Linked DNA regions of Homo sapiens: all the other regions are linked to region 5. The links come from fine-mapping of genetic effects on gene expression. A gene starts in region 5. Each other region holds a variant in brackets. All regions are shown on one strand. Distances are between the middles of the regions. Region 1 has its middle 6.1 kb from the start of EIF4A3. Region 2 has its middle 6.6 kb from the start of CARD14. Region 3 overlaps CCDC40 (coiled-coil domain 40 molecular ruler complex subunit). Region 4 overlaps CCDC40 (coiled-coil domain 40 molecular ruler complex subunit). Region 5 holds the start of GAA (alpha glucosidase). Region 6 has its middle 16 kb from the start of EIF4A3.

Evidence for each region. PIP is the estimated chance that this variant, and not a neighbour inherited with it, causes the effect. A credible set is the group of variants that fine-mapping cannot tell apart.
Region 1: its variant is the best candidate, but not a certain one, in a credible set for the expression of GAA in thyroid (GTEx, PIP 0.75).
Region 2: its variant is the best candidate, but not a certain one, in a credible set for the expression of GAA in whole blood (TOPMed, PIP 0.90).
Region 3: its variant is the best candidate, but not a certain one, in a credible set for the expression of GAA in whole blood (TOPMed, PIP 0.59).
Region 4: its variant is the best candidate, but not a certain one, in a credible set for the expression of GAA in NK cells (Gilchrist 2021, PIP 0.56).
Region 6: its variant is the best candidate, but not a certain one, in a credible set for the expression of GAA in neutrophils (CEDAR, PIP 0.75).

The regions. Positions count from the first base shown.
Region 1 is chr17:80,150,445-80,155,944 of GRCh38, reverse strand. No RefSeq gene overlaps it. Among named protein-coding and RNA genes, the nearest start is that of EIF4A3, 6.1 kb to the right of the region's middle. RefSeq lists a silencer at 49-249 and enhancers at 1-389, 2,540-3,039, 3,040-3,541. The variant G/A (reference allele first, on the strand shown) is at 3,040.
Region 2 is chr17:80,160,663-80,166,162 of GRCh38, reverse strand. No RefSeq gene overlaps it. Among named protein-coding and RNA genes, the nearest start is that of CARD14, 6.6 kb to the left of the region's middle. RefSeq lists a silencer at 2,439-2,733. The variant A/T (reference allele first, on the strand shown) is at 2,490.
Region 3 is chr17:80,059,630-80,065,129 of GRCh38, reverse strand. The region is part of intron 9 of CCDC40 (coiled-coil domain 40 molecular ruler complex subunit); the gene reads right to left. All of the region lies in intron 1 of LOC124904074 (a long non-coding RNA gene), which reads left to right. Among named protein-coding and RNA genes, the nearest start is that of CCDC40, 26 kb to the right of the region's middle. The variant C/T (reference allele first, on the strand shown) is at 2,263.
Region 4 is chr17:80,077,760-80,083,259 of GRCh38, reverse strand. CCDC40 (coiled-coil domain 40 molecular ruler complex subunit) reads right to left here. Exons shown (of 20, transcript NM_017950.4): 11 at 1,471-1,714; 12 at 1,202-1,384. Among named protein-coding and RNA genes, the nearest start is that of MIR1268B, 18 kb to the left of the region's middle. RefSeq lists an enhancer at 303-804. The variant T/GTCTT (reference allele first, on the strand shown) is at 3,051.
Region 5 is chr17:80,099,251-80,103,250 of GRCh38, reverse strand. It overlaps GAA (alpha glucosidase), which reads right to left and starts at 1,670. Exons shown (of 20, transcript NM_000152.5): 1 at 1,361-1,670. It overlaps CCDC40 (coiled-coil domain 40 molecular ruler complex subunit), which reads right to left. Exons shown (of 20, transcript NM_017950.4): 20 at 2,638-3,724. The coding sequence ends at 3,476. RefSeq lists an enhancer at 1,064-1,173 and a silencer at 1,504-2,123.
Region 6 is chr17:80,128,621-80,134,120 of GRCh38, reverse strand. No RefSeq gene overlaps it. Among named protein-coding and RNA genes, the nearest start is that of EIF4A3, 16 kb to the left of the region's middle. RefSeq lists a silencer at 398-563. The variant G/TG (reference allele first, on the strand shown) is at 2,982.

The DNA of each region.
Region 1 (5,500 bases), 52 kb before region 5:
GGGCAATAAAAGATCACAAGGGCAGAAGGGCAGAGCAAGATCACAAGGCCAGGGTGAAATCAGAATTACTGATGAGGTTCCATGTCCCACTGGGCATGCATTGTCTTGACAAACATCTTAACAGGAAACAGGGTTTGAGAGCAGACAACCGGTCTGACTACAATTTGCCAGGCTGGAATTTCCTAATCCTAGCAAGCCTGAGGGCACTACAGGAGACCAAGGTGTATTTCATCCCTTATCTTCAACCACATAAAACAGACACTCCCAGAGTGGCCATTTTAGAGGCCTCCCCCTGGGAATGCATTCCTTTTCCAGGGTTATTCCTTGCTGGGAAAAGAATTCAGCAATATTTCTCCTATTTGCTCTCTGCAAGAAGAAAAATATGACTCTGTTCTGCCCGGCCCCGCAGGCAGTCAGACCTTATGGTTATCTTCCTTGTTCCCTGAAAGTCACTGTTACCCTGTTCTTTTTTAGGATGCCCAGATTTCGTATTGTTCAAACACACGTTTTACAAACAATTTGTGCAGTTAACGCAATCATCACAGGGTCCTGAGGGGACAGACATCCTCAGCTTATGAAGATGATGGCATTAAGGGATTAAAGTAAAGACAGGTATAGGAGATTATAACAGTATTGATTGGGGAAGTGATGTCCATGAAATCTTCACAATTTATGTTCAGAGACTGCAGTAAAGATAGGCGTAAGAAATTATAAAAGTATTAATTTGGGGAATTAATAAATGTCCATGAAATCTTCACAATTTATGTTCTTCTGCTGTGGCTTCAGCTGGTCCCTCCATTCGGGGTCCCTGGCTTCCTGCAACAGGCTGAAGTTTTTCTTTTAGGTTAAAATAGAGATAAGATTGATCAAACAGACTCTTTGTGGCAATAAGATACCAAATTATAAACAAGACCTAAGGCCATGGCAGGCAAAGGCTGATTCACACCCTACTAACCATAAACCCTTGTCAAACTTTTTTTTTTTTTAATTAACCTGGTACAATGTGGCTTCCTTTCCAAACTGGTTCTGGATGAGCACACATGACAGAATGGAAATAAAAATATTTTTCTGTGAAATATATTTCTTTGACATATTTTGGAATGGCACTGCAAAGCTGTCTTTCGGCTGGGCGCGGTGAACTCACGCCTGTAATCCCAGCACTTTGGGAGGCTGAGGCAGGTGGATCATAAGGTCAGGAGATTGAGACCATCCTGGCTAACACGGTGAAACCCCGTCTCTACTAAAAAATACAAAAAAGTAGCCGGGCACAGTGGCAGGCGCCTGTAGTCCCAGCTACTCGGGAGGCTGAGGCAGGAGAATGGCGTGAACCTGGGAGGCGGAGCTTGCAGTGAGCCGAGATTGTGCCACTGCAGTCCAGCCTGGGCAACAGAGCGAGACTCCATCTCAAAAAAAAAAAAAAAGCTATCTTTTGTGGGGGAAATTAATTTGCATCTGTAGAGAATGTCCATTAACATATCCAGGCCTTGCCTGGATCTAGGAGAGATTTGCTGACAGCTTGACACCTTTAAAGTCTGAAAAGAGACATTTGCCATCCATTTTCTCGGAGGGCTGCTAGAAACCTATGAGGCTTTCATTTACATAACAAGGGCCTTCACCCCCACAACTGCCTTAACTCAAGCATTCTTTTCTACTTACTTCAGGTCTTTAGACGGTAGCTTAACTCTTTTTGACTCCCCCAAAACGTAATATAAATAATAGCTTAACTCTCTCAAATGGCAAGTAAAGAATCTGTAAAACCCACGTATGACTTGTAAGCCCCTGCTCTGGGATAGCCTGCCGTTCAGGCTGAACCAAACGTATACCTTCCATGCACTGACTTACATCTTTGCCTGTAACTCCTGTTTACCTAAAATGTATAAAAGTAAACTGTTACCAGCCAGGCACAGTGGCTACTGCCTGTAATCCCAGCACTTTGGGAGGCCAAGGCGGGTAGATCACCTGAGGTCAGGAGTTTGAGACCAGCGTGACCAACATGGTGAAACCCCATCTCTACTAAATAGAAAAAATTAGCCAGGCGTGGTACTGCACGCCTGTAATCCCAGCTACTTGGGAGCCTGAGGCAGGAGAATCGCTTGAACCTGGGAAGCAGAGGTTGTGGTGAGCTGAGATTGTGCCACTGCACTCCAGCCTGGGCAACAAGAGTGAAACTCCATCTCAAAAAAAAAAAAAAAAAAGGAAACTGTCTCACGTGTCCTTGTGAAGAGACCACCAAACAGGCTTTGTGTGAGCAACACGGCTGCTTATTTCACCTGGGTGCAGGCAGGCTGAGTCCAAAAAGAGAGTCAGCAAAGGTGGTGGGATTATCATTAGTTCTTATAGGTTTTGGGATAGGCGGTGGAGTTAAGAGCAATGTTTTGGAGGGCAGGGGGAGGATCTCACAAAGTACATTCTCAAGGGTGGGGAGAATTACAAAGAACCTTCTTAAGGGTGTGGGAGATTATAAAGAAACTTCTTAAGGGTAGGGGAGATTACAAAGTACATTGATCAGTTAGTGTGGGGCAGAAACAAATCACAATGGTGGAATGTCATCAGTTAAGGCTATTTTCACTTCTTTTGTGTATCTTCGGTTGCTTCAGGCCATCTGGATGTACATGTGCAGGTCCCTGGGGATATGGTGGCTTAGCTTGGGCTCAGAGGCCTGACAGAAACTGTTACCTGGGTACCTTGTGACCACTTAAGGCTTTTTGGGTTTGTGTTTTTTCCAGGCCACAGTCACTTCTACTGGTTCAGAATAACCCTCTTGAAAACATTTTTACAGGGTCTGGTTTTTCTGTTAACACTGCACGTGTGCTAGACTCTGACCAGCCAGTGCAGGGTCTGAGAGTCAAGACAGCAGTGAGGTGAGTTCAGGCAGCGCTCAGCAAGGTGCCTTGCCCCAGCCAGTTGGGTTTAGGCAGGGCTGTGCCTAGAAATGAACAGTGTTCACCCTTTAATACCTACGGATGGGTGGAGACTTCTGGCAGGAAGTCACTTTTAGGGGATGGTCCCTTGGATCAGATCGAGGTCACTTCTATCTAG[G/A]ACATCAACTCCTGCAGTGATGAGTTACAGGAACCCAGTGCAGCCCAGCAGCACTGCCCCTGAGCCTCCTGGGCAAGAAAAGCCACCTCACCCTTTTCTACCTGATTCCTGGGAGCCGATGAAGGTAAAGGAAAAGGGACAGGTCGGCTCTGGAGGGTGGCAGACCACTGGGCTGTTCCCATTGTCACAGGGCAAACCCCCAAAGTAGGACTCAGCCTGTGAGACCACGTGGGTTCCTGGCTTCCCACGGGAAGGAACTCAAAAGTGAGCCAACAGAATGAAGTGAAAACAGGTTTATGAAGGAAGTAAAGGAATAAAAGCGTGACTACGTCATAGGCAGAGCAGCCCTGAGGGGTGCCAGTTGGCTTTTATGGTAATTTCTTAATCGTATGCTAAAAAGGGGTGGACTGTTCATGAGTTTTCCAGGAAAGGGGTGGGCAATTCCCGGAACTGAGGGTTCCTCCCTGTTTCAGACCACATAGGGTAACTTTCAGGGGTGGCCATAGCATTTGGAGACTGTCATGGCTGGTGGGAGTGTCTTTTGGCAGCTGATGCGTTATAATTAGCATATAAGGAGCAGTGAGGACAGGCGGAGGCTGCTTTCATCACCATCCTGCTTTTGGTGGAGTTTGGAGGCTTCTTTACCACATCCTGTTTTATCAGCGGGTCTTTGTGACCTCTATCTTGTGAAACAAGTCCTGCCAAATTCCTACCTCACCATCTCCCCCACAGCAACCTCCTGAGCTCACAGCGCTCCTGGCCAGCTGGGACTGCGTTGTGTCCCTCCCTCTCTCTTGCCCCAGAGGTCCACACATTGAGTAAGCCAACAACTATTTATTGAACACCTACTGAGCATTAGGGAAACAGTGGGGGCGAAACAGACATGACCCTAGCAGCCGCATTTAATGGGGTGAGTAGTCTCCCTCCCCAACGTGGAAACCATGTGGGAAGTGAGATGCCGGTGACAGCGAGGATGCTGAGACCAGGCATAGGGGTCTGTCTACCTCAGTGACCGGGAGCCTCTTTTCCTAGACACCTTGGGGGCCAGGGACAAAGGGCAGGCACTATAGCTACTGTTTAGGGAACTCTAGAGCCTGGCCTGCTTGTGCCTTTCCCTGTAGGGCGCTTGAACTTATCACACTGGGCCTTAGTGTCTCCATCAGTAAAAGAAAAAAGATACCTATCTGCATTCTCTACTTATGGAGATAATGGAGGTTTCCCATAGGAACGGAAACATTTATCCAGAATTTTAAGCAGGGGACTTGTGGATAGAAAGCTAAGCGAGGCTGTCAGCTCTCATTTTTTAAGTAGATGTTATGCATAGCACAACAGAGCTACACAGAGCCGACACTTTAACAAATCTGGTGCATGACTCACAAGGCATGTTCTCAAGACATGGCTGACACGATCCTAACTGCCTACCAGTAATAAACAGAACAAGGGGTTTGGGATCCTATTGATGCTAGGGCATCTGCTGAGCACTACATAGGCCATGGAAAAGCACGCACCATATTTCACAGCAAAAACCTCTTCTCCTGAGAGGAGCTCTTGCTGCTCTCCTACATGACAAAAACATGAGTCTCCTCCCATCTATTCACCACCTACCCACACTGCGTTTTCTAAAGCCTTTTTGGCAACAGGGATGGGTTTTGTGGAAGACAAATGTATTATTCCATTTTCATACTGCTATAAAGAACTGTCCGAGACTGGGTTATTTATAAAGGAAAGAGGTTTAATTGACAGTTCAGCATGGCTTGGGAGGCCTCAGGAAACTTACAATCATGGCAGGAGGTGAAGGGGAAGCAAGGCACCTTCTTCACAAGATGGCAGGAAGGGAAAAGTGCCAAGCAAAGGGGGAAGAGCCCCTTATAAAACCATCAGATCTCGAGACAACTATCAAGACAACAGCATGGGGGACTCATCCCCGTGATTCAATTACTCCACCTGGCTTCTCCCTCGACACGTGGGGATTATAGGGATTATGGGATTACAATTCAAGATGAGATGTGGGTGAAGACACAAAGTCTAGCCACGTCAACAACTTTTCCACAGGTGGTGGAAAAAAATTCTTCCAGAGATGGATGGGGTAGTGGTTTCGGGATGAAACTATTCCACCTCCCATCATCAGGCATTAGATTCTCATGAGGAGTGCACAACCTAGATCCCTCGCATGTGCAGTTCACAACAGGGTTCACACTCCTCTGAGTCCAGTGCTGCTGCTGACAGCAGGCAGAGCTCAGTTTAGCTCCCTTGCTTGCCTCCTGCTGCACCGCCTGGTTCCTAACAGGCCACAGACAGGTGCTGATACTGGTCCGTGGCCTGGGGTTTGGAGATTCCTGCTCTAAAAAGTGGATTTACCCTCATCATCCCAGGGCCCCTCAGCCTCTAAGAAAAGAGGCCTCTTGGTCACAAAGGTGGACAGACCCATTAAGCTCTGGGTGAGCAACCCCGTCTCCAGCAC
Region 2 (5,500 bases), 62 kb before region 5:
CACCATGCCCGGCCACAAAAAAATTTTTTTTAAATACAGGGTTTTGCTCTGTTGCCCAGGCTGGACTGCAGTAGTGTGATCATAGCTCACTTCAGCCTCAAACTCCTAGGCTCAAGTAATCCTCCTGCCTCAGCCTCCCAAGTAGTTGGGATTACAGGCATGTGCCACCACATTCAGCTAATTAAAAAAAATTTTTTTTTGTAGAGATGGGGTCTTGCCATATTGCCCAGGCTGGTCTCAAATACCTGGCCTCAAGCGATCCTCCTGTCTCAGTCTTTCAAAGTACTGGAATTACAGGTGCATGCCACCATGCCTGGCTAATTATTTTATTTTATTTTTTCTAAAGATGGGGGTCTTGCCATGTTGCCAAGGTTGGTCTTGAACTCCCGACCTCAAGTGATCCACCCACCTTGGCCTGGGATTACAGGTGTGAGCCACAATGGCCAGCCAAAATTACCATTTTTAAAATGAACAATTCAGGCCAGGTGCGGTGGTTCACACCTATAATCCCAGCACTCTAGGAGGCCAAGGTGGGCAGATACCTGAGGTCAGAAGTTCGAGACCAGCCTGGCCAACATGGTGAAACCATCTCTACTAAAAACACAAAAATTAGCTGGGTGCGGAGGCTCACGCCTGTAATCCCAGCACTTTGGGAGGCTGAGGTGGGTGGATCACGAGGTCAGGAGATTGAGACCATCCTGGCTAACACGGTGAAACCCCGTCTCTACTAAAAATACAAAAAATAGCCGGGCATGGTTGCGGGCACCTATAGTCCCAGCTACTCGGGAGGCTGAGGCAGGAGAATGGCGTGAACCCGGGAGGCGGAGCTTGCAGTGAGCCAAGATCGCGCCACTGCACTCCAGCCTGGGCGAGAGAGCTAGACTCTGTCTCAAAAAAAAAAAAAAAGAAAAAAAAAGAAAAAAACATGAAAATTAGCTGGGCTTGGTGGCAGGTGCTTGTAATCCCAGCTACTCAGGACGCTGAGACAGGAGAATCGCATGAACCCCAGAGGTGGAGGTTGTAGTGAGCCAAGATCTCACCATCGCACTCCAGCCAGGGTGACAAGAGTGAAACTCTGTCTTAAAAAGATAAATAAAATAAAATAAAATAAAATAAAATAAAATAAAATGAACAATTCAAGCCAGGCATGGTGGCTCACACCTGTTATCTTAGAACTAGAACTTTGGGAGGCCAAGCTGGGAGGATTGCCTGAGCTCAGGAGCTCGAGACCAGCCTGGGCAACATGGCAAAACCCCGTCTCTAATAAAAATACAAAAAAATTAGCCAGGGGTGGTGGTGCATGCCTGTAATGCCAGCTACTGGGGAGACTGAGGCAGGAGAATTGCTTGAACCTGGGATGTGGAGGTTGCAGTGAGCCAAGACCACGCCACTGTACTCCAGCCTGGGTCACAGAGTGAGACTCCGTCAAATAAACAAACAAAAAAACACAATTCAGTGGCATTTAGTAAATATACAACATTGTGTGACCACTATATCTAGTTTCGGAACATTTTTACCACCCAAAAAGAAACCACACACCCGTTAAGCAGCTCCTGGTCCAAGGCAACCACCAATCTGCTTTCCATCTCTGGATTTGCCTGTTCTGCACATTTCATATACGTGGAGTTGTGTAATATGTGGCCTCTTGCATTGGTGTCTTCCCCTCTGCATGATGTTTTGAGGCTCTTCCATGTCATAGCCTGTGTCAGTGCCTCGTCCTGGATGTGGCCATATCATATTCCATTGTGTGAACGCCGTGCGTTGTCGATTCATTTGTCTGTTCATGGCCATCGGGCTCTCGTGAATGCTGCTATTGTAACCGTGCAGTGGGTTCATTTATCCCACTTCCCAGATAGAGCCAATTTATCAAGACAGGGGAATCGAAATAGAGAAAGAGTTTAATTCATGCAGAGCTGGCTGAACAGGAGACTGGAGTTTTATTATGACTCAAACCAGCCTCCCCAGAATTCGGAGGCTAGGAGTTTTCAAGGATAGTTTGGGGGCCCTGGGAATGAGTGCTGCTGGTTGGTTGCAGATGCAATGACAGGGGTGACAGTCTTCTTCTGGGTGAGGCCACAGGACACATTGGCAGGTCCAGGTGGAGCCATCAGCTATCAGAAATGCAAAACCCTGGCCAGGCGCAGTGGCTCACGCCTGTAATCCCAGCACTTTGGGAGGCCAAGGCAGACAGATCACAAGGTCGGGAAATCAAAAACATCTTGGCCAACATGGTGAAACCCCATCTCTACTAAAAATAAAAAATAAAAAATTAGCTGGGTGTGGTGGCACACGCCTGTAATCCCAGCTACTTTGGAGGCTGAGGCAGAAGAATCATTTGAACCCGGGAGGCAGAGGTTGCAGTGAGCCAAGATCGGGCCACTGCACTCCACCCTGGGCAACAAGAGCAAAACTCCATCTCAAAAAAAAAAAAAAAAAAAAAAGAAGAAGAAGAAGAAATGCAAAATCCTGAAAAGACATCTCAAAAGGCC[A/T]ATCTTAGATTTATGCGTACACATCAGCAGAACTCAGGCTCCTTTCATCGTCCTAACTTGGTAGACTTTCATTAGCCTTATGATGACAGTTTAGTTTTGGAGAAGGGCTATTATCATTTAAACCACAAACTAAATGTCTCCCAAAGTGAACTTGGCACAAGCCCAGTTTGGAGGTTAAAGACAAGATGAGGCGTTTCGCTGGAGCCCATGAGGTTGAGGCTGCAGTGAGCTATGATTGCACCACTTCACTCCAGCCTGGGCTACTCAGTGAGACCCTATCTCTTAAAAAAATTAAAACAAAAACAAAAACAAACAAACAAAACAACCAAACTGCACACTTTGGATTCCATGTGGGATTAACAATGGAAGCTACTCCATTTTGGAGTCTGGTATTTAAAATTCTCACTGCGGCTTGGGTTTGCCTCCTGATCAGGGAATCAGTCCCTACTGGCTTCCATTTATTGATCCTTATCCCTTCCATGAACAGCTTTTGATTTCCTGCCTTCTGTCTTTGGGACACAGGGCTTTTGGACCCTTATGTGCAGGTGGTCAGCTGAGAAGCTGAGACCCTAGAGAATACAGCTGAACAGAAATGTGAGTTAGACTCCACTTGTGGCTAGTGAAACTTCACTTTCTTTGAGCTGTCTTTGGGATGGTTCTGGGTCTTATACAAAAAGAATTATCAGCTGTTTGGCCCAGCTAAAATCTGGTAACAAGAGATTTGAAAGGATTTTTTGGGGGGCAGGGGGGACAGAGTCTCACTCTGTCAACCAGGCTGGAGTACAGTGGCACAATCTCAGCTCACTGCGAGCTCCGCCTCCTGGGTTGAAGCGATTCTCATGCCTCAGCCTCCTGAGTAGCTGGGATTAAAGGCATGCACCACCATGCTTGGCTAAGTTTTGTATTTTTGGTAGAAACAGGGTTTCACCACGTTGGCCAGGCTGGTCTCGAACTCCTGGCCTCAAGTGATTCGCCCACCTCGGCCTCCCAAAGTGCTGGGATTACAGGCGTGAGCCACCACACCCGACCGATTCCCTCTCTTTTTAGACCACACGGGGTAACTTCCTGACATTGCCATGGCATTTGTAAACCATCATGGCGCTGGTAGGAGTGTCTTTTTGCATGCTAACACATTATAATTAGCATATAATGAGCAGCGAGGACAGGCAGAGGTCACTTCCATCGCCATCCTGGTTTTGGTGGGTTCCGGCTGGCTTCTTCATCGCATCCTGTTTTATCAGCAAGGTCTTTGTGACCTATATTTTGTGCCAACCTCCTATCTCATCCTCTGACTAAGAGTGCCTAACCTCCTGGGAATGCAGCCCAGTGGGCCTCAGCCTTATTTTACCCAGACCCTGTTCAAGATGGAGTCACTCTGGTTCGAACGCCTCTGACACCTCTGTTCACTTCATTTAAAAAAAATTGTTCTCCCATATACTTTTACTCCGCCCCACTCCTGCTTCCGCTGCCATATTCAGTACCATGTAAAGAGATCTAGAGATTTCTAATGACCCAAACCCCTTAAGGAACTCAGAAAAAAAAGATGCCACTCACCGTTGGTTGGAGGTCTTCTGCTTTCCTTGTGGAGTTTCAAGCACCACATGGAGAGTCTCCTGAGGTCTAACGCTCCGCTCTCTTTTGCACAGTATTACCCGATTTCTTTGGCTTTTCGGAGATACCAAAAATGACCCTGTATTGTGAGAAAACTTGACCGTGGTTTGCGTAATGGCTAGGCAAGAGATACAGTTTTAGAGGTGGCTGATGGCAGTTGCTTACAGAAAATGGTTATTACTACAGGGGGTGACAAAAAGCATGGTTTGGGGCACCAATGAGGTGGGAAATCAGCCGGATTTGTTTTCTGAGCACCGGTAATGACCCTGCTGGTCAAAGCAGGATGCAAACTGGGTGCAGTGGCTCATGCCTATAACCCCAGAATTTTGGGAGGCTGCAAAAGGAGGATCACTTGAACCCAGGAGTTTGAGACCACCCTGGGCAACATAGTGAGACCCCCATCTCTACAAAAAATTAAAAAATTAGCCAAGCATGGTGGCATGTGCTTGTGGGCCCAGGTACTTGGGAGACTAAGGCAGGAGGATTGCTTGAGCCCAGGAGGTCAAGGCTGCAGTAGGCCATGATTGTACCACTGCGATCCAGCCTGGGCAATGGAGCGAGACCCTATCTCAAAAAAAAAAAAAAAAAAAAAAAAAAAAAAAAGCAGGCTTAAATAAATAAAGAAAAAAACCAGCTGAAACCAGCAGATGGAAAGCAAAGTGACCTCCAGTTGCCCTCACTGCTCATCAGCATGAAGACCTTCCTTACGGCACTATGACAGCCTATAAATGCCATGGCAATACCCTACATGGTTCCAGAACTCCCCTACTTCTTTTCTAGAAAATTCAGAATAGCCCACCCCTTGATTAGCATATAATTAAGACCGGGTGTAATTGTGGCTAGCCAGTGCTCCCTTGTTGCAGCTGTGGCTGCCCCTGCTGCTGCTGCTGCTCCTCCTCCTGCTGCTGTTTACTGCTACTCTAGCCTCTCCCTGTGGGTTAGCCCTGCTCTTAAATTATTTCCTGAGCAAAGCCAAGAACTCTCTCAGGCTAAGCCCCAATTTTGAGGTGTGCCTGTGTTACCTAGAGGCTATGAAAACACAGCCCACCAAGGGATACGACTCCACGGGCGATAGGCTGACCACAGATTGGGATAACTGGCTTTGTTTCCGAGTACCCCCATTTTTCTAAAAGATGTTTAATTATTTTTTTCCTCTCTTTTTTTCTCCTTTTCCCAGTTCCTGACTTCCTACTTAGCCCTTTAGGTATGCAAATCTAGCCTTTTCTCCCCTCCTTCACCAGACAGTCCCTCGAGATCCCCCGGCAAGTGCATCTAACTCCTGGAGAGTTAACAGTTGATTTACAGACCAAAGCATGCCTGCTATGGAACTCCCCCATCAGGGAGTGGCCTGGAGAGATAATGGTCTGCCCACAAAAGTGCCAGCAGTCACAAGCTCGACC
Region 3 (5,500 bases), 39 kb after region 5:
GGGAGGAGATGAAAGAGGGAGGAGGGGGAGAGGGAGGGGGAGGAGATGAAAGAGGGAGGAGGGGGAGAGGGAGGAGGGGGAGGGGGAAGACGGAGAGGAAGAGGGAGAGGAGGAGGGAGAGGAGGAGGGGATCCTGGCCAGCATCCGTGAAACACCTCTGCAGGGTTGGTGGTGTCATTGATTCGGACTGAGGTCCCACAGGACGGGCCCAGCACCGCTTCCTGTAGGGAGGCCATGATGGAAGGAGGTGTTTGTCTCAAGAATGGCCAGGGCTGGATGCTCTCGTCCAGCTGGGGGAAGCAGGGCTGCCTAGACTGGGAATGAGGAGGCACAACTGGACAGCCAGGGGTGGGCAGGTCAGGCAGGCTGAGCGGAGGCTGGAAGTCTAGGGGCATCGTGGGGGGCAGTGAGGGGCCACCTGCAGTAAGGGCTTGGCCCATGCAGGGGAGGGGCTTGAAAACTAGGGGGGTGGTTCAGGAATTTACTCCAAGGGAAAGGGGAGTTCCTTTATGCTTGGGGCACAGAGGTTAAGGCTGGTACGGCTGCCTGGGCTGAATCTCACCCGCTGTGCCTCAGTGTCCCCAGCTGTGACATGGGTACAGGAGCGGCACCTCCATGGGTACAGGAGCGACCCCGGGGCTGCCGGGTCAAGTGAGTTGATGCCTGCATGCCCAGCACGGCCTGGATCGCGGTCTTGTTTTGAGTGGTGTTTGGGATTCTTGATGAGTCATCCCCAATGCAAGCACTGTGACTTGAGCAAGCTGGCGGCCCGAGTCAGCCAACTGGGGCGTCCTGTAGAACGCCAAGTCCCAGAAGTGCCTGCACGCCGTGACACCCAGGCAAGCTTGGTAGACAGTGACTGAACCACAGTGCGCTAGAACATCACGGGGGAGCCGAGGGCAGCGCCGGGCATGAGAGAGGCCATCGCCCTGGAGACACCATGCTTGGCTGTGAGGGTTTCTGAACCATCTATTCATTACGACGTAACCTAAAATGGTGTGAATTAAGTATACCACGATGAGGGGGACTTTTTTTTCCTCTCACAGACGCTTACTTAGGATTATTGGGCAGCCTAGGAAGGGACACTGTGTACATCCCGGGACTGACTTCCCTTTTGTCTGTAGTATTTCCTTTTATTTTAGCTGACATGTTACAGCTGTATATCTCTGGGGTACAGAGTGATATTTCGACACATGTACAATGTGTACTGCTTGAATCAAGGTAATTAGCGTATCAGTCACCTCCAGCAATTGTTATTTCTTTGAGTTGGGAACATTCAAAACCCTCTCTTCTAGCTATCTGAAAATGTACAATAAATTATTGTTGACTGGGCCAGGTGCGGCGGCTCATGCCTGTAACCCCAGCACTTTGGGAGGTCAAGGCGGACGGATCACCTGAGGTCAGGGGTCCGAGACCAGCCTGGCCATGGGGGTGCAGGTGTCTATTGGATGCACGGATTCCCTTTCCTTTGGATAAATGCCCAGTCGTGGGACTGCTGGGTCACAGTTTTGTATGGGGGTAAGTTATTCACTAAGGAGGCTGCTCTGTGCCATTGGGCAGTGGGAGCTGGCCCAGGCAGCAGGTGGGGACCCAAATTCAGCCAGGATGCACCTTAAACTGAGCCTGTGCGAGGCCTCCCCATGGTGCCCCTGAGGCTGCCGGCCACAGCCTGGTTGACTGAGGTGCAGGTCAAGGCATAAGGATGGAAAGATGGCTGCCGGGCTCAGTCACCTGTGCATTTAGACCCCAGTTTTTCACAAAGGCAAGTGTTCAGCCTATGCAAATAGAATGTGCAAATAAGCAAAAAGAAAATGAAAATTCAATAACCCTAACACTTAGAGATAACCATTTCTAACTTCTTACACCTGTGATTGTGTGTGTGTGCGAAATCAAATTCTATATATTGTTTCATAATCTCCTATTAATTTTTTTTTTTGAGACACTTTTACTCTCGTCACCCAGGCTGGAGCAAAATGGCACGATCTTGGCTCACTGCAATTTCCGCCTCCTGAGTTCAAGCAATTCTCCTGTCTCAGTCTCCCGAACAGCTGCGATTATAGGCACTCGCCACCACGCCTGGCTAATTTTTGAATTTTTAGTAGAGACGGGGTTTCACCATGTTGGCCAGGCTGGTCTCGAACTCCTGACCCTCAGGTGATCTGCCGACCTCGGTCTCACAAAGTGCTGGGATTACAGGTGTGAGCCACCATGCCCCGCCATATTAAAAATTAATGTATTGTGCCAGGTGCGGTGGCTCATGCC[C/T]GTAATCCCAGCACTTTGGGAGGCTGAGGCGGGGGGATTACTTGAGGCCAGGAGTTCCCAACCAGTCTGGGCAACAAAAAGAAACACCGTCTCTACAAAAAGAATAATCATAATAAAAAAATTAGCACGGTGTGGTGGCATGTGCTTATAGTCCTACCTACTTGAGAGGCTGAGGTGGGAGGATTGCTTGGACCCAGAAGTTTGAGGCTACAGTGAGCCATGAGGGCCCCAGTGCACTCCAGCCTGGGGGACAGAGTGAGACTTAGTCTCTACCATCATTCTCAGCAAACTATTGCAAGGACAAAAACCCAAACACCGCATGTTCTCACTCATAGGTGGGAATTGAACAATGAGAACACATGGACACAGGAAGGGGAACGTCACACAACGGGGCCTGTTGTGGGGTGGGGGGAGGGGGGAGAGATAGCATTAGGAGATATACCTAATGCTAAATGACGAGTTAATGGGTGCAGCACACCAGCATGGCACATGTATACATATGTAACAAACCTGCACATCGTGCACGTGTACCCTAAAACTTAAAGTATAATTTAAAAAAAATTAAAATAAGAAATTAATATCGAGACAGGTTTCCATGTCAGTAGAGCTCTTTTTGGTGTAGTGTATTCTGATGCACAGGTGTATGAAAATGGGTTTCACTAATGTCCTCTTCTTGGGGTCTTTCTTTCTGATGACACAACACGGTGATGAGCGTCATCTCCCCCATGAGTCTCTATTCACTGTATTTATTTCTTTAGAGACGGGGGTTTCACTCTGTCACCCAGGCTGGAGTGCAGTGGTGCAATCATAGCTCACTGCAGCCCTGACTTCCTGGGCACAAGTGCTCCTCCTGCTTCAGCCTCCTGAGTAGCTGGGACTACAGGTGCACCCCACCAAGCCTGGCTTTATCATTTTTAACATACAAAAATGTTATCTGCATAGGTCTTTGCTAGGTTCCTTGGAATGGAGTCTAAGCACTAACAGGGTGCGGGGTTAGGGTTAGGGTTAGGGAGGGAGTGGCTGCATATGATCATATCGCCCTGGATGAAGATCTTGATAAAGATAAAGGCCAATCTGTATTTTCATGGCCGACAGCAGGGAGGGCTCATCTCTCCTTATCTTTGCCAACTCTGTAGGGGACTCCCTGTCCTTTGGTTACTTGTGACTTCGCTCGATGAACAGGGGCCCTGCTGTTGCCCCCGCACTGTTCTGGGTACTGGAAATGAGAAATGAAGGAAGTGCGGGCGGCCCCCTTCCCTGGGGAAGTTGCATCGAGGGGAGGGCGGGAGGTGCAAAAGGAAGCATCTACCAAGTAGCCCACCTGCCTCCAGGGTGTGGAAGCACACAGGGCGAGTCTCCTTGGCTTTCAGCCTCTCTTCACAACCCCGGATTTACTAATGGCTGCGAGTTGTCTTCTCCTGCCTGTCTCCCCGCCTTCATCTGGTTTGTGGCGTCCTTAATCTACAAAGGTTTTATTGAGGGTGTGATTGTCCTCCTAGTCTTTTGTTTTGTTTTGTTTTTTGAGATGGATTCTGGCTCTGTCGCCCAGGCTGAAATGCAATGGCATGATCTCGGCTCACTGCAACTTCTGCCTCCTGGGTTCAAGCGATTCTCCTGCCTCAGCCTCCCAAGTAGCTGGCATTACAGGCGTGTACCACCACGCCCAGCTAATTTTTGTATTTTCAGTAGAGATGGGGTTTTGCCATGCGGGCCAGGCTGGTCTCGAACTCCTGACCTCAGGTGATCCAGCGGCCTCGGCCTCCCAAAGTGCTGGGATTACAGGCGTGAGCCACCTTACCCGGCCCCTCCTAGTCTTTTCCTTTAAGGTTCCTGCTTTTGGTGTTATACTTTGAAAGGCCTCCCCAGCCCAGGATTATATAAATATTTTCATTTGTTTTCGTCTGGCACATTTTCCCCCATTTAAATACTTGATTCCATCTGGAATTTATTTTAGTGTCTGGTATGAGGAAAAGATTTAATTTTTTCCCAAATGATTAACCAAATGTCCCGACATCATTGGATGCATAATTCATTAGCTCTCTGGTAATTTATAATCTACTAGGTTTTTATATAAACTCTGGCTTGCTTTGGGGCTCTCTCATAGGCTTCAATGTCTTGCCTGTCTATCTTGTGACACATTATTTTAGCCTCTAGAACTTTACGGTTTTGTTTTATTTTAGACAGGGTCTTGCTCCGTAGCCCAGGCTGGAGTGCAGTGGTATGATCATATTTCATTGGATCTTTCATAGTTCAAGGATCTTTCATGATCCTTCCTTTTCAAAATTTTCTTGGGTATTCTTGAGCATTTAGTCTTCTAAGTGAACTTTAAAATCAATTCGTTGAGAATAAAGTGTTGTTGTTCTTTTTTTTTTTTTGACCTCCCGGGCTTAAGTGATCCTCCTGCCTCAGCCTCCTGAGTAGCTGGGACCACAGGTGCACACCACCATGGTGGGCTAATGTTTTATTTTTTTTTAATTATTATTTTTTTGTGGAGACAGGGTCTCACCATGTTGCCCAGTCTGGTCTTGAACTTCTGGGCTCAAGCCATCCTCTTGCCTCAGCCTCCCCAAGTGCTGGGATTACAGGTGTGCACCACCTTGCCTGGCCAGAGCTTTACTGTATACTTTAATATTTGGTGCGGCGATGCTAGGGTGATCTGCCATCCTGCTGTGTCCAGGACCCCCTGGGCTTAGCATGGAAAGTCCCTTGTCTTGGGGACCCCTCAGTCCTGAGCAGACTGGGATGGCTGCTTGCCCCGTTTGAATCTTCTCTTCCAAAACCATTCTTGGCTAGCCTTCCTAATTTATTTTTCAGATAAAACTCCAGAATTGTTTTGTTAACTAAGGGATTGTTTGTTCCTGAGATTCTGATTGGGACGTGCTCTACTTTAATTGCATTTGTAGCTGGAGAGACCAGTGCTGAGTAACGCCCAGCCCCGGGCCCTCCCTTTACCCTGGGAGCCCAGCGTGCTCATCCGTTCCTTCAAGTCCTCTTCCTTCTTTTTCATTGGCTGGGCACGGTGGCTCATGACTGTAATCCCAGGACTTTGGGAGGCCGAGGTGGGTGGATCACCTGAGGTCAGGAGTTTGAGACCAACCTGGCCAACATGGTGAAACCCTGTTTTTACTAAAAATACAAAAATTAGCTGGGCATGGAGGTGGGCGCCTGTAGTCCCAGCCACTCTGGAGGCTGAGGCAGGAGAATTGCTTGAATCTGGGAGGCGGAGGTTGCAGTGAGC
Region 4 (5,500 bases), 21 kb after region 5:
CCTGAGATCTGGGCCCCCCAAGGACTCCCTGCCTCCCCCCTCCCCAACTGCCCTGCAGGGGCTATGGCTCCAAGTCCCCTTCAGTCCCTCCCCGTCACAGCCGGGCCTGCACCCCCGCTCCACTCCTGGCTGTTTGTGGTCTCTGTGGAGCCCACCCTGGCTCCCCCTAGGCATCTACACCATCCCTGGATTAACTGCCTGGACCCCGTGGTTGACCCCAGCTCCGGATGGGTGGTCCCGCCCATCCACACTTTGCTCCTCCTCCCAGATATGCCTCCCCACCCCACCTTCTATCAGCCCATGAGGCTTTGAGCAGTTCAAACATCGTGTCGGGGGTACTCTTTTCAGCAGCTGGACTGGCATCGGTTGGAAAATTGTCGTAATAGACGAATGTGTTGGTCCAAGACTCTTTGCTGCCCTCTTCTGGAAACTGGCAGCAAAACACGTATGACCTATCGGGCTGCCCAGACAGGGGCTCGGCGGGGGCCCGGGGGCCTGGGGATTGGGAACTGGACTTGGCTGGTAGCAGCACGGCTGGATGGGCTCCTTCACACCCACCACGCCCTTCAGCTCTGCCTGGCCAGCTCCTTTCCCACCCCTCAGGAGGGCAAAACCGGCAGAGCTTGGCATCGGGAATCTGTCACCCTCCTCTGAGACTAAAATGGGGACTGTTGGGCAGGCCCCACTGCTAGGATGTGCTCTGGAAATGGTGGAGCCTGTGGTAGCCTCTGGGGGTCCTCCAAAGGGGCCTGCTTGAGGCGGGGTGTTGGGGAGGCGGTCACCCCTCGGGAAGAGGCAAAGAAAAAACAATTCAAGTAAGGAATTGTTTTTTCTAAGGACACAAGTCCCCTCCACCCCCACCACAGGTGATAAAGGATAAAGCAAGATCCCAGGGGATGCGAACATGAGCTCACAATTGGGGGTTCCCTGCCATGGACGTCGAAGTCACACTCCAGGTCCCCCCAGGGAAATCAGCCTTTGGCTGGCAGCTGGCCATGCGGTGGCTCACGCCTGGCCTATTTCTAGGTTTTCTACAGTAAAAATGTATCACCCTTACAACCTGAACACCATGGAAAGGAGTGAGCACAGGAGGGCCCTCTGCTCACACTGACTCCGCCCTCTCCGCCTCCAGGACGGCTTGCCCTCATATGCCCAGGCTGCAGGGGGCTTCGCACAGCCCCTCCCTGGGGCAGGGGCCTACCATGTTGGTCTTCTCCTTCTGCAGCCTCAGGATGAGCTGGTTGAAGTATTTGGTGGTCTTGTTGGAGGTCATGTGCTCCTGCAGCTTCTCCCGGATGGCAGCATCCGTCTTCCTCCTGAGCTCCAGCTCGCCCTGGATGGCTTGGCGGATGGCCTGCAACTCCTCCGTGAGTATCATTTGTTCCTGGAGACAAGGAGCCACAGGGTGCACGTGCCTGAAGAGGCACCACCGTGCGCCAGGTGTGACCTGTGGGGCGGGCCCGGCCTCACCAGCTGGTCCTGGCTGAGGGCATCCTCTGTGTCCTGCAGGGTGAGCCTGTAGGTATTGAACTGGCTCTGCAGGGCCACCTGCTTGGTCAGGCACTGGGTGGTGAGCTTCTGCAGCAGTGTGGCTTCCGTCTCTGTCCGGTTCAGGATGCTCGCCAGCTTCTCGTTCTTTTCTTCCTCCTTCATGATGGATTTCTTATAGGCCTCAATCTCGCCGTCGGTGGATTTGGCTTGATGCTGGCATCCTCTGTAGAAATGCAGCGGGGAGAGCCAGTTACGTGTGAGACATCAGAGAGCCAGTGCACAGAGCTGCGCCCCACACGAGGGAGCTCACTAAGGCGAACTCAATGCACAGAGAAATAAATTAGGAAGCCAACTCTTATTTATTTATTTATTTATTTATTTTTTGAGACAGAGTCTCACTCTGTAACCCAGGCTGAAATACAGTGGTGCGATCTCGGTTCACTGCAACCTCCGCCTGCCGGGTTCAAGCGAGTCTCATGCCTCAACCTCTTGAGTGGCTGGGATTACAGGTGTGCGCCACCATGCCCGGCTAATTTTTAAACTCTATTTGTAGAGATGGGGTTTCACCGTGTTGCCCAGGCTGGTCTCCAACTCCTGAGCTCAAGCAATGTGCCTGCCTTGGCCTCCCAAAGTGCTGGGATTACAGGTGTGAGCCGCTGCACCCAGCAGGAAACCAACTCTTTTAATAGCAGCCAAATCTTTAAAAAATTTTTATGGATAGATTGGCACATATTTGAGAGGTACATGCGATATTTTGACACAAGCATACAGCATGTCATGATCAAATCAGGGGAACCGGCCATCTATCACCTCACACATGATCCTTCCTTCGTGTTGAGAACATTCCAAATCTTTTCCTCTAGCTATTCAGAAATATACACTAACTTACCGTGAACTGTAGTCACTGTGACATGCTATTGAACACTGGGCCTTGTTCCTTCTCCCTCACTGTATTTTTGCAGCCAATAGCCAAATCTTGACTATTATTTTCAAATAGATCAAGAGAACTATTATCTATTGAAAGCCCAAGTTGACAACTCTTTTGTACTGTGATTATGGGGAGAAGGAAAGTGACGCATGGGTCAGACGTTGGGCTAGGGGTTCTCATCTGCCCACCTTCCTTAACCATGACAATAATCCTAGGAAGGAAATAGTCCAGCTTTACAGATGTGGCCATTGAGACTCAGAGCATTTCAATCACTAGCCCAAGGTCTGCAGGAAACAGCGTGGCTGAGGGAACACCAGTGGGCCCACTTCAAATTCTATTGTCTTTCCCCTCGGCATGCTGCGATGAGATACCTGTAATTAACGTCAAGCTCTAAAACACAGATATCGGATAATCAGATCTAAAATACTGATTCAAATGAAATAATCAGATTCAAATCCTGTATTTGTTGGAGTGCAGAGGCACGATCTTGCCTCACTGCAACCTCTGCCTCCTGGGTTCAAGTCATTCTTACGCCTCAGCATGAGGATTTGAATTTTGTGTGTGTGAGGCATGTTTTCCTATTATTCTGAGATGTTCTGCGGTACTTTAAACATTCCTTTCATTCCTTTCT[T/GTCTT]TCTTTTTTTTTTTTTGAGACAGTCTCTCACTCTGTTACCCAGGCTAGAGTGCAATGGCATGATCTCAGCTCACTGCAGCCTCAAGCCACTCAAGTAGCTGGGATTACAGGTGTGTGCCACCATGCCCAGCTAATTTTTGTATTTTTGTAGAGATGGGGTTTCACCATGTTGGCCAGGCTGGTCTTGAACTCCTGACCTCAAGTGATCCACCTGCCTCGGCCTCCCAAAGTGTTGGAATTACAGGTGTGGGCCACTGCGCCTGGCCATCCAGTATTTTTTTTTTTGAGACAGAGTCTCGCTCTGCCACTCAGGCTGGAGTACAGTGGCGCGATCTCGGCTGACTGCAACCTCCTGGGTTCAAGCGATTCTCATGCCTCAGCTGCCTGAGTAGCTGGGACCACAGGCGTGTGCCACCATGCCTGCCTATTTTTTTTTTTTTTTGTATTTTTAGTAGAGACAGGGTTTCGCCCTGTTGGCCAGGCTGGTCTCGAACTCCTGACCTCAAGTGATCCACCTGCCTCAGCTTCCCAAAGTGATGGGATTACAGGCATGAGCCACCGTGCCTGGTGATCCAGTATCTATTTTTAATGTGTGTGGATATTTATTGATCCACTGATGAGATCAGAAAAAGCCAAAAAACAGGAAAGGGCCTCATTATGGATCGATGAGGATGATTAAATTATGGCACAGGCATCATTTAGAACACAGTGTGAAGAGAACTGCAAAGAACAACGGTGATTTCTATGTGTTCTGACATGGAATAACTCTAAGACACAGCACAAGAAACACCAAGCTGCAGAGCGGGACACACTAAGCGGCCGCGGGTGATTTTTAAGTGGAGAGATAAACACCCGAGAATAATGCATATGTATGAACGAAATCTATCTGGAAAGACCTTTATGAAACAGTAACAGGTTGCTTGGGAAAGAGAATTGAAAGACTGGGGAGAGATGTGAGAAAAATATGGAAGGTATTATTCTAGTCCAAGAAGAAAGTACTTTCTGACTATTTGAATAAAAACTTATTCAAAGGATAAGACACTATCAATAGAGAAAGGAAGCCTGGCCCACATGACAAAACCCCATCTCTACTAAAAATACAAAAAAAATTAGCCGGGCGTGGTGGTGTGTGGCTGTGTTCACAGCTACTTGGTACACTGAGGCATGAGAATCACTTGAACCCAGGAGGCGGATGTTGCAGTAAGCTGAGATTGTTCCGCTGCACTCCAGCCCAGGTGATAGAGCAAGACTCTGACTCAAAAAAAAAAAAAAAAAAAGATACTGATACTGGAGAGATTTGCCATGTCCATGAAGCAGAAGATTTAATATTATTAAGGCCTCAATTCTCTTCAAACTGATCTATGGATTCAATGTAATTTCAGTTACATCCCAGAAGGCATTTTTTCCCCAGAAATTGACAAGCAAGTTTTAAAATTTAAATGGAAACCTAAAGGACCTAGAGTAACCAAAATAATTTTGTAAAACAACATCAAAGACTCAGACTATCTGATTTCAAGATTTTCCATAAAGCTCTAGTTAGAAAGACAATGTGGTATTGGTGAAAGAATGACAAAAAGATCAACGGAACAGAATAGAGAGTCTGGAAACAGACACACACACACAATACATTGATCTTTGACAAAGGTGTCACAGGATTTCAATACGGAAAGGACAGTCTTTTCAACAAGTGGTGCTGGGACAACTAGAGAGAGACACACAAAACCTGAGCCTGGACCCCGCTCATACCACAACAAACGTGAACTTGAAATGGACCAGATGCCTAAAAGCGAGACCTGGAAAACTTTAGTGGAAAACTTGGGAGAAAATCTTCGTGACCCTTAGACATTTCTTTTTCTTTCCTTTTTTTTTTTTTTTTTTTGAGACAGAGTCTCGCTCTGTTGCCCAGGCTGGAGTGCAGTGGCGTGATCTTGGCTCCCTGCAAGCTCCGCCTCCCAGGTTCATGCCATTCTCCTGCCTCACCCTCCCAAGTAGCTGGGACTACAGGCGCCCGCCACCACGCCCGGCTAATTTTTTGTATTTTTAGTAGAGATGGGGTTTCACCGTGTTAGCCAGGATGGTCTCAATCTCCTGACCTCGTGATCCGCCCACCTTGGCCTCCCAAAGTGCTGGGATTAGAGGCATGAGCCACACTGTGCCCGGCCTGACCCTTAGAGATTTCTTAGAGAAGACATAAAAAGCATGAATCAGGAAAGAAAATATTTAATAAGTTGGACTTCACAAAAATTTAAAACTTTTGCTCTTCAAAAGACACTGTAAAGAGGTAAAAAAGACAAAGCCACAGACTGGGACAAAAATATTTTCAAAGCACACGTCTGATAAAAGATGTCTCCAGAAGATATGAAGAACTCTTACAACTCAATGATAAGCCACTCAGCGGAAAAATGAGCAGAAGTTGCTTCACCAGAGAAGGCACAGGAATAGCGAATAAG
Region 5 (4,000 bases):
TTCAGAAAGCAGCCCCTGGCCAGTGAAGCTCCTTGGAGCAGAGGACTGTGCAACCTTCTCTGGTACTGGGAGCTGGTCACATACCAGGAAGAAGTGAACTCAGGGCCCGAGGGAGTCTGACCTGTCATGTCATGTTACAGAAGGCTTGGCTGGGAACGCTCTGCCCCCGGCCGGACGTGGTGTTCCACCGTGGGCCACTGGTAAATTAGGGCTCTCTGGGCTGGAGGGTGAAACATTTTACCCACACTTCTGACATTAAATGTGTAGGGTTTTTCTCACACCCATCAATTCTGCAACTTTCTGGACACGGCTGGGTGTCCTACAATTCAATTCAATCTTGACACTACCTGGAGTCAGCACAGACTCCACAGGTTAAGGGCTCAGTCCCACAACACTGCCTTCACTTCAGAGGCCAATGGCAAATCCCAGGTTGTCACTTGTACTTTCGATCAACTAGTTATAAATTCAGAGGTTCCCAGGACTCCCTCTTCAGGGTCACAGAACTCAGGAAAGTGCGTTTCTTACAGTTGCTGGTTTATTACAAAGGATAAAACTCAGACAGCCGTATGGAAGAGATGCGTAGGGCCTGGTGTGAGGTGGGGGCAGTGATGCTGTGCTCTCTGCTCGCACCACCCTCCAGTGCCTTGGTGTGTTCCACAACCCGGCGGGAAGCCCTCTGATCCCTGTGGTTTCTTACGGGGTTCCATTGTGCAGGCATGGTTGACTAAGCCACTGGTGATTCACTCAATCTCCAGCCCCTCACCCCTTTTCCATCCCAACCCGTCATCAGGCCTTGGTCTTTCTGGCCATCTGCTTCCATCCTGAAGCCACCTGGTGTCCCCGGTCATCAGTCACCTCATGAGCAAAAGGCTCTCTCATCACTCGGTTTCCAAGGGTTTCGGGTGCTATGTGCCAGCAACCAGGGACAAAGACCAGAGACAGTCACCCCTGGCCTGGCCTAAGGGGGTCTTTGTGATTGAGACATTCAGATTTCAGAGCTGGCCCAGGGGCCCCCTCTCAGGCCACGGTGCTCCTCACCCCAGGGATTCAGACCCAGCCATGTGCGTCCTGCAGGAGCAGGAGAGGTGGCTCGGGTCCCGGCCAGGACTGAGCACTGCGTCGATCAAAAGGGGAAAGGAAACCCTAGAAACGGGAAGATGCAGCCTCCAGCCCCAAGCCCAGCACAGGAGGGCGGCTCCCCGTTCATCTCTAAGCTGAACTCAGATAAAGACCGGGAGGACTAGAGGTCTGGGGCTCAAGCTCCGCTCAGGGGAAGAGGCTGGGGGCACGGCTAGGCACGTTCAAACCCGCTTCTGGGATGTTACCGCCGGCAGCGCGGGGCAGACGTCAGGTGTCTCACCCGCTCCGTGCCTCAGTTTCCCCGTCAGCTGCGGCACGCGCAGAGCCTCCCTCGCTGAACAACGGGCGGACGAGGAGAACCTAGAGGTGGCCGGGGTCCTTCGCGTCACCGAGGTCACTGTCCTACCTGCTGCCTCATCCCCGACCTCCACCCGCGGCCCCGGCGACAACCTCAGCTTTCCCAACTGAGAGGCCGCGCGGGCAGCCGACCGCCCCACCGACCCGGCCCGCGCTCAGGGAAGCCCCGCAGCCCCGGCCCGGCTCACCTCCGCGCACGCGCGCCCTGGCCGCCCGCGGAGACTCCGGGGTCGTGCCCGGGGGCGCGCAGAGGCGGGTCACGTGACCGGCGGGAGCTCGTCGCGGGGCGGGGCCGCGGTGGGTCACGTGACGCGGCCTCCCGCGCAGGCGCCCGAGGCAAGGGTGCGCGTCCGCGCTACGCCCCCCAGTGGCGGCTCCGGCAGAGCGGGCCTGGGCGCGTCCTCGCTCTCGGAGGGGGCCTGGGGAGCGCGTCTGGCTGCGCGTCCGGCGTCCCGCGGGGAGAGGCCCACGCGTGCTGCCCGCTGCCGGTTCCTCTGGGGTCAGAGACGGGGCGAGGCCCCCGCTGGCGCAGTCCCGGCCCGGTCCCCGTGGGGTCGGAGATGGGGCGTGGCCCCCGCTGCCCCGGCCTGGGTCCCCGCAGCTCGTAGGGCTTTGTAAGGGGCTGGCCCAGCCGCGCCTTGCGCCCAGGGATTCCTCCTGCCAACGCGTCCCGAGGGCATCATCGGAAAGGCGGCCAAAGGCGCTCAGCGCCAAGTTAGAAACAGCCAACATTTGGAAAGTCCTTAAGTGTGCTCCATAACTCACAGTTATTCCAGAAAGGAATAATCAAAACATTGTGATAACCCATAAAACTGACAATTGAGAAAACATTAAACTGACACAGGGGGAATTTTTTCATAAAATGAGAAAATGCTTACATTAAGAGGAGCACATTTTTACATGTGAGATACAAAAAACACACAGTATAACCTTAACTTGCCTAATAAAATGTATGTGCAGAAAAATACAAAAGGAGCCACACCAAAACACAGAGGTGTTGTTCCTGGGTAGGGGCATAGGGGCATTAAAAGCCCCCTTTCCAGCTTGCAGCGAGCCGAGACCGCGCCACTGCACTCCAGCCTGGGCGACAGAGCGAGACTCCGTCTCAAAAAAAAAAAAACAAAAGCCTCCCTTCCACCTCTGTTGTGGTTTCTGTATTTCTACAATGTTTTAAAATAAGTAAGGCTGACTCAGAAAGGCTTACTAGATATTCAGAAAAAAGATTTTATTCTTCTGCTGAAATGTTTGAAAGTGAAATTATTTTGTAGAGCATTTTCCCTTTAAACTGCAAAGAAGCCCCAAGGTCATTGGTACTTGGAAGTCCAGGGAGAAAGAGCGCTGGGTTAATGATGGAGAAAAGATAGGTGGGCAGACTGGGGCGTAGTCCCTTGGTGTGGACGCCCCAGCGTGCTCTTATTTCAGTGCTCACCCTGTTACGTGTGTCTGGGGCCACTGACTTTCTCCTGCAAGCTGTGGATCTGAATTTAACTCAAATGGGGACATGGGGGCAGGAAAAGGGACCTGAGAGTTCTAAGGGGTGGGGATGGGAAAACTGGTAAAGAAGGTGGTTTGTGGGTTTTCAGATGCACCTAGTAGAGGGAAGTGCTGGGGGGACCAGCCTCCCGGGCCAGGCTGGCTGGAGCTGCCTTAACTTTCCCACCTCTGCTCAGCCCACCAGCTTGTGGACCTGTGGCAGCGTTGTGTTGTGAGAGGCACGTGCAGATTTGGGAGTGCTGCAAACCAAAGTGTTACCTGGACGAGTAAGCCCAGTGTGGGAGTGTGGGTGTGTGGGTCTGCAGTCACAGGCTCTGTCTTTGCGATGGGATGCCATGGGAAACGCTAGGATTTTACCTGGTTTATTAAATTGCTGAGTGGCTAAAAAGATTCCTATGGGTGGGGCTGGCTTATTTCTCTTAAACGATGCCCTTCTGAGGGTACATGTGGTTTTTAGGAACACAAAAGATTCCAAGTCCCTCATGACAAACACAATTCCGGATCTCTTCCTGGAGGCCTTGCAAGGCGGAGTCCAGGCTGCTCCCTAGGAGGGCCCTGGTGACTCGAGCTTGTTGGCGATCATCTGGCTGACCTTGTGCAGGGCCTCCTGGAACTGGGGGTACTCGTCCCGCACGCGGTCCAGGATGGTGGCGATGAGAGCCAGTCGCTTGTCCAGGCGCTGGCGCTCCAGCACTAGGGACTGCTTGGAGCGGAACAGGAACACGTAGCGCCCCTCCTTCACAGCCTGCAGGTGCTTAAGGCGTGTCTGCAGGGCCACGATCTCTGAAAGGTTCTGGGTAGGAAAAGAGACTCCATATAGGGCTATGCAAACCAGAAGAAAGACACCTGCTGGCCCCCCACAAACTCAGATTCCAGGAAATGCCGAAGAGGAGGCGAGACCTACGCCTGAAAAGGGACGGCGTGAAGGTGTTGCGCCCCTGGATCTCAGGGAAGAGGCTGAGAGGCACTGGGTCGGTGCTTTATGGGTCACCCATCATCACCATCTAGGAGGCATTCTTTTTTTTTTTTGAGATGGAGTCTTGCTCTGTCGCCCAGGCTGGAGTGCAGC
Region 6 (5,500 bases), 30 kb before region 5:
GGATGATAATCTTTATTTCCGGGTTAGGGTGAGCTTGGAAATAATTTTTAAATTTCATCAGGTGATTCTACTTGAAGGCATCTGAAATTCTATAGTTTATGAATGGAACTTCCTTTCACTGAAACTGTGACTGGACCCTTGCTAGCCAGCTGGTGGCTGGTAGACCAGCTGCATCATCAGGAGTTGGTTAGAAATGCAAGTGCTCGGGCCCTGTCCTGGCTTGCTGAGTGAGAACCTGCAGGTAACAAGACTCCCAGGTGGCACTGCTGGCCGAGCGGGAGGAGCACGAGACTACAGGCCCAGGCAGCTTAATGAGTTCCTGGCAAGGAGGAACCAGATACAGGTGTGTTCAGGGCATTTGCTCAGCAGCAGTGGGGAGTGATGCCCACCACAGCTCTGGCCAGTGCCAGCCTCAATGTCCGTATCTGCAGGCGCCTGAGCTCACTGAGGCTCACCTGGTCTCATCAGGAGCTGCTGCCAGGCTTGTGTTAGAGGTGAGGAGTGGCTCAGGTTTCCACACAGTCACTCCGGAGGACGGAAGGCCTCCATTACCAGTAAGAATGATTCTAGATGAATAAGCACGTGGTGTTACAGTGGAGGAGGCAGCATTGGTGCCTTGGGGAGGAGATGGCAGGAGAAGGGGTGGGGCTTAAGCTACCCCACACACTGTCTAGGAAAGGTCATCCTAAAAGGAAAAATACAGCACAAGTGTTCATAAAAATGTCAAACTGTACTGACAAATCAGAAATGGTATGTGATTATCCAAGATTTAAAAACCACCAGTCCTAAAGGTTGACAAGGAAAGTTTCCAGACTTTCTGGAGAGCAGCCTGGCCCTTGGGCAGTCAGTGATGAAAATGCTATTTCCCTTTGGTGGTGTGTGGTTCTGCTGTAGACAGCTGACTGGAATGTGGACTTCTCCAGGAAGTTCAGCGTTGCTCCTGCCTATACCAGGGAAGGATGCTAAGTGCTCATGGATGGGGGCATGGTGCGGGACAGGGTGGAACATTTGCAGTGATGCTGGGAAGAGAAGGATACAAGAGGTAGAGAACTCATGGAGGTTCTTGGGAGGGTGGTTTGGGGCCAGGATCCTCCCAGAGTCCAAATGGAGTCAAGTTCAGGCAGGGGGTCTGCTGAGCCTTGCTAGGTAGGTATCACTGGGCCTCTGGTCAGGTGGAAAAACTGGCTCTAGATCCTGAGGGGCTTCCCAAGGTCCCCAGCAACTAAATCCAGATGAAAAACCCCTGGGTTATGTACTTCATTACAAAAGTATAATCTCACTGAAAAAAAACATACAAATGCATAATTTGAAAAAGTCATCCTTAATCCTCCTACCCAGATATAACTCACAATTTGATGACTGTCCATCCAGTATTTTAATTTATCTTGTACATCTACCTGTACATAAAGACCTTTTTAAGCAAAAATTGTAACCCACTTTGCCATTATTAACTCAGGTTTTTGCTTAGTAATGTATCATACATATTTCACTACGTTAAAAAAAAAAAAGCTACTTTTCCAGCCTCTATACCATGGCTCCTTTGGAAGCAGTTGAAGATTAATTAGAATAATCTTTTATTTGTTTATTTTTTTGAGATGGAGTTTCGCTCTTGTTGCCCAGGCTGGAGTACAATGGTGTGATCTCGGCTCACTGCAACCTCCACCTCCTGGGTTCAAGCGATTCTCCTGCCTCAGCCTCCTGAGTAGCTGGGATTACAGGTGCCCACCACCACACCTGGCTAATTTTTCATATTTCTAATAGAGTTGGGGTTTCACCATGTTGGCCAGGCTGGTCTCAAATTCCTGACCTCACGTGATCCTCCTGCCTTGGTCTCCCAAAGTGCTGGGATTAGGCATGAGCCACTGTGCCCACCCAGAATAATCTTTAGAAGTGATTTTCTTGATCAAGGTACATGTTTCAAATTAACGTTGCAGAAAGATTTTCCACCAATTTATACTCCTAATGGTATATTTTTTTTTTTTTTGTTTTGTTTTTTTTTTTTGGGTGGTTGAAATTTATTCAACAAATACATATAGGATGCCTTGTCTTAAAGCCAGGCAATTTTCCTAAAAGAAAAACCACATAAAAAGGGTTCTAACCAAGAGCTAGAGTGTCCTGACCCTTTGAGGTATGTCTAAAGTATAGAAATAGAATGGTAATGTTGATGCTGTTGGCATGTTTCTTTGTAGTAAGATTGTTTAAAATAATACATAGACATAAAATGTATGACGAAAATAGCACAGCACCGAAGAAAGGAGTAATGGAAGTATACTGTCAAGATTCTTACACTATTACTTGAAGGCAGATTGTGATGAATTAAAGATGTGAAACATATATAAAAGTGTTAAGCAATTTTTAGGTATGAACCTTTAAAGCAATACAAAAATGTGAAACAGAAATAAACAGCCAACGTAGGAGACAAAATAAGAGTTCTAAGGAATACTTAATCTAAGAATCCTGAAAAGGAAGGAAAAGGGAACAGAGAACTTACGAGATGGACAAATACAAAACGGTAGTAGGTTGAAAACAACCGTGTCAATAATTACATTTATTGCAGATTGTCTGTCTCACCTCAAACTAAAAGAAAAGCAAGCTAAACCCAAAGGAAGCAGAAGAAAGGAAATAATAAAGATGAGAGTAGAAATAAATGAATAGAAAAATAATAGAGAAAATCAACAAAACCAACGGTTCATTCTTTGAAAAGATCAACAAAATTGACACATCTTTAGCAAGTCTAAGGAAAAATAGGTTCAAATAACTAAAATCAAGAATGAAAGAGGTGATGGCACAGCCGACTGTACAGAATACAAAGTATCAGTGCCATGGATTGTTTGCCAACAGATGAACCTTGATAAAATGGAGAAATTCCTAGGACAAACAGATTAAATCAGTAACCAAACTTTCAACAAAGGAAAGCCAAGGCTTGTGAATCCTGCCAAACTTTTACAGAATTATCACCATCACAATTTTTTTTTTTTTTT[G/TG]ACGCAGAGTCTCACACTGTTGCCTGGGCTGGTGTGCAGTGGCACAATCTTGGCTTGCTGCAACCTCCGCCTCCTGGGTTCAAGTGATTCCCTTGCCTCAGCCTCCCAGTAGCTAGGATTACAGGTGCCTGCCACCACATCTGGTTAATTTTTTGTATTTTTAGTAGAGACGGCGTTTTACTGTGTTGGCCGGGCTGATCTCAAACTCCTGATCTTGTGATCTGCCCCCGTCAGATTCCCAAAGTGCTGGATCACGAAATCTTTCAAAAAATATAAGGCAGAACATTTCCCAACTCACCCTGAGGCCAGCATTACCTGATACCAAAACAAAGCTACCACAAAAAAAACTAGATCAATATCATATGAATATAGATGTAAAAATCCTCAAAAAACTGGCAAAACAAATCCAGCAACATATAAAAAGGATTGTACACTGACAAAGTGGGATTTATCGCAGGAATGGAAAGTTGGTTTAATATCCAAAAATCTGTCAATGTAATACACCCTATCAATAGAATAAAGGACAAAGTCCACATAATGATTTACAGATGCAGAAAAAGCATTGGACAAAATCCAGCACCTTTTCAAGATAGAAAATAAGAATGGAAGGGGGCTGCTTCAACCTGATAAACAGCATCGATGAAAAACCACAGCATTACCCGCTAAGGTTGGGAACAAAACAAGAATGCTCTTGCCACGTCTATTCCAACATTGTACTGGAAGTTACGAGCCAGGACAATTAAGCAAGAAAAGAAATAAGGCATCCAGATCGGAAAGGAAGAATCAAAACTCTCTAGTCACGGATGACATGATTTATACCTAGAAAATCTTAAGGAATTTACACATTTAAAAAATCACTTATCAGAACTTATAAATGAGGTCAGCAAGGTTGCAGAATATATGTTCAACATAGGAAAGCCAGTGTTTCTGTACACTAGCAGTCTGAACAACCTGAAAATGAAATTAAGAAAATAATTCCATTTACAATTGCATCAAAAAGAGTGAAATATGTAGGAATAAATTTAACAAAAGAAGGGCTATACTTGTTCACCGAAAACTACAAATAGCTTGTTGAAAGGCATTGCAAACCTAAATATATAAATGTCCCAGGTTCATGGATTGGAAGATAACTTTCCCAAACTGATTGATATAGTTAGTTAGGCTTTGTGCCTCCACCCAGATCTCATCTTGAATTGTAATCCCCCTAATCCCCACATGTCAAGGGACAGACAAGGTGGAGGTAATTGAATCATGGGAGCAGTTCCCCCCATGCTATTCTTGTGATAGTGAGTTCTCACAAGATCTGATGGTTTTATAAGGGGCTCTTCCCACTTCACTTGGCACTTCTTGCCACCTTGTGAAAAAGGTTCCTGCTTCGTCTTCGCCTTCCACCATGATTGTAAGTTTCCTGAGGTCTCCCCAGCCACACTGAACTGTGAGTCAATTAAACTTCTTTCCTTTTTAAAGCACCCGGGCTCAGGCAGTTCTTTATAGCAATATGAAAATGGACTAATATACTGCTCTGCAGTGTTTAGGAGAATGTGGAGAAACTGGAACCCCCATACATTGCTAGTGGGATTGTAAACAGGCACAGCCTTTATGGAAAACAGCTTGGCAGTTCCTCAAAATGTTGAACATAGGAGTTGACCTAGCAATTCTCCTCCTAGGTCTATACTCAAGAGAATTAAAAAATCTGCACACATAAACCTAATGTGTTCATAGCATTGTTCATAAGAGCCAAAAAGTGGACACAAGCCAGATGTTCATCAGCTGTAAGCAAAACTGGTGAATCCACACAATATTACTTGGCAATAAAAAGGCATGAAGTGCTGACACACTACAACCTGGATGAACCTCGGCAATATGCTAGGTGGAAGAAGGCAGACACAAAAGGCCACACGTGGTGTGATTCCATTTACATGAAACGTCCTGAACAGGTAGATCCATAGAGAGATTAGCAGGAAACCATTCACAGTGGTTTCAGGAGCTTGAGGGGGGAGGAGGGGGATGGGTGAAACAAGGAGTGGCTGAAAATGAGTATAGGGTTTCTTTTGAAGGTGATTCTAATGTTCTGGAATTAGATAATCGTGATGGTTGTACAAGTGTACTAACAACTGAATTGCATACTTTAAAATGGTAAATGTTATGGCATGTGAATTACATCTCAGCACAAATATCATGAGGAATCTCATGCATCCTCTAAAATTACACTTAAAAAGCAAAAAGCACGAGCAAGGGAAAACAAGCAAATTGCCTACTGCAAAATTAAAAGACAGATATTGTTAGGCTGGATTATAAAGCCATACACAACTATATACTATTGCTTATGAGAAATATAAAGACAAAAGTGAAAAGATGGAGAAAAATACACCATGGTAACGCACACATCAAAATAAACCTGAAGCAGCTCTATTAATATTAGACAAAGGAGATCTCAGAGCAAAGAATATTGCAAGGGACAAAGAGAGTCATTTGATAATGATAAAGGGGTAATTCATTAAAAGGATATAACAATACTA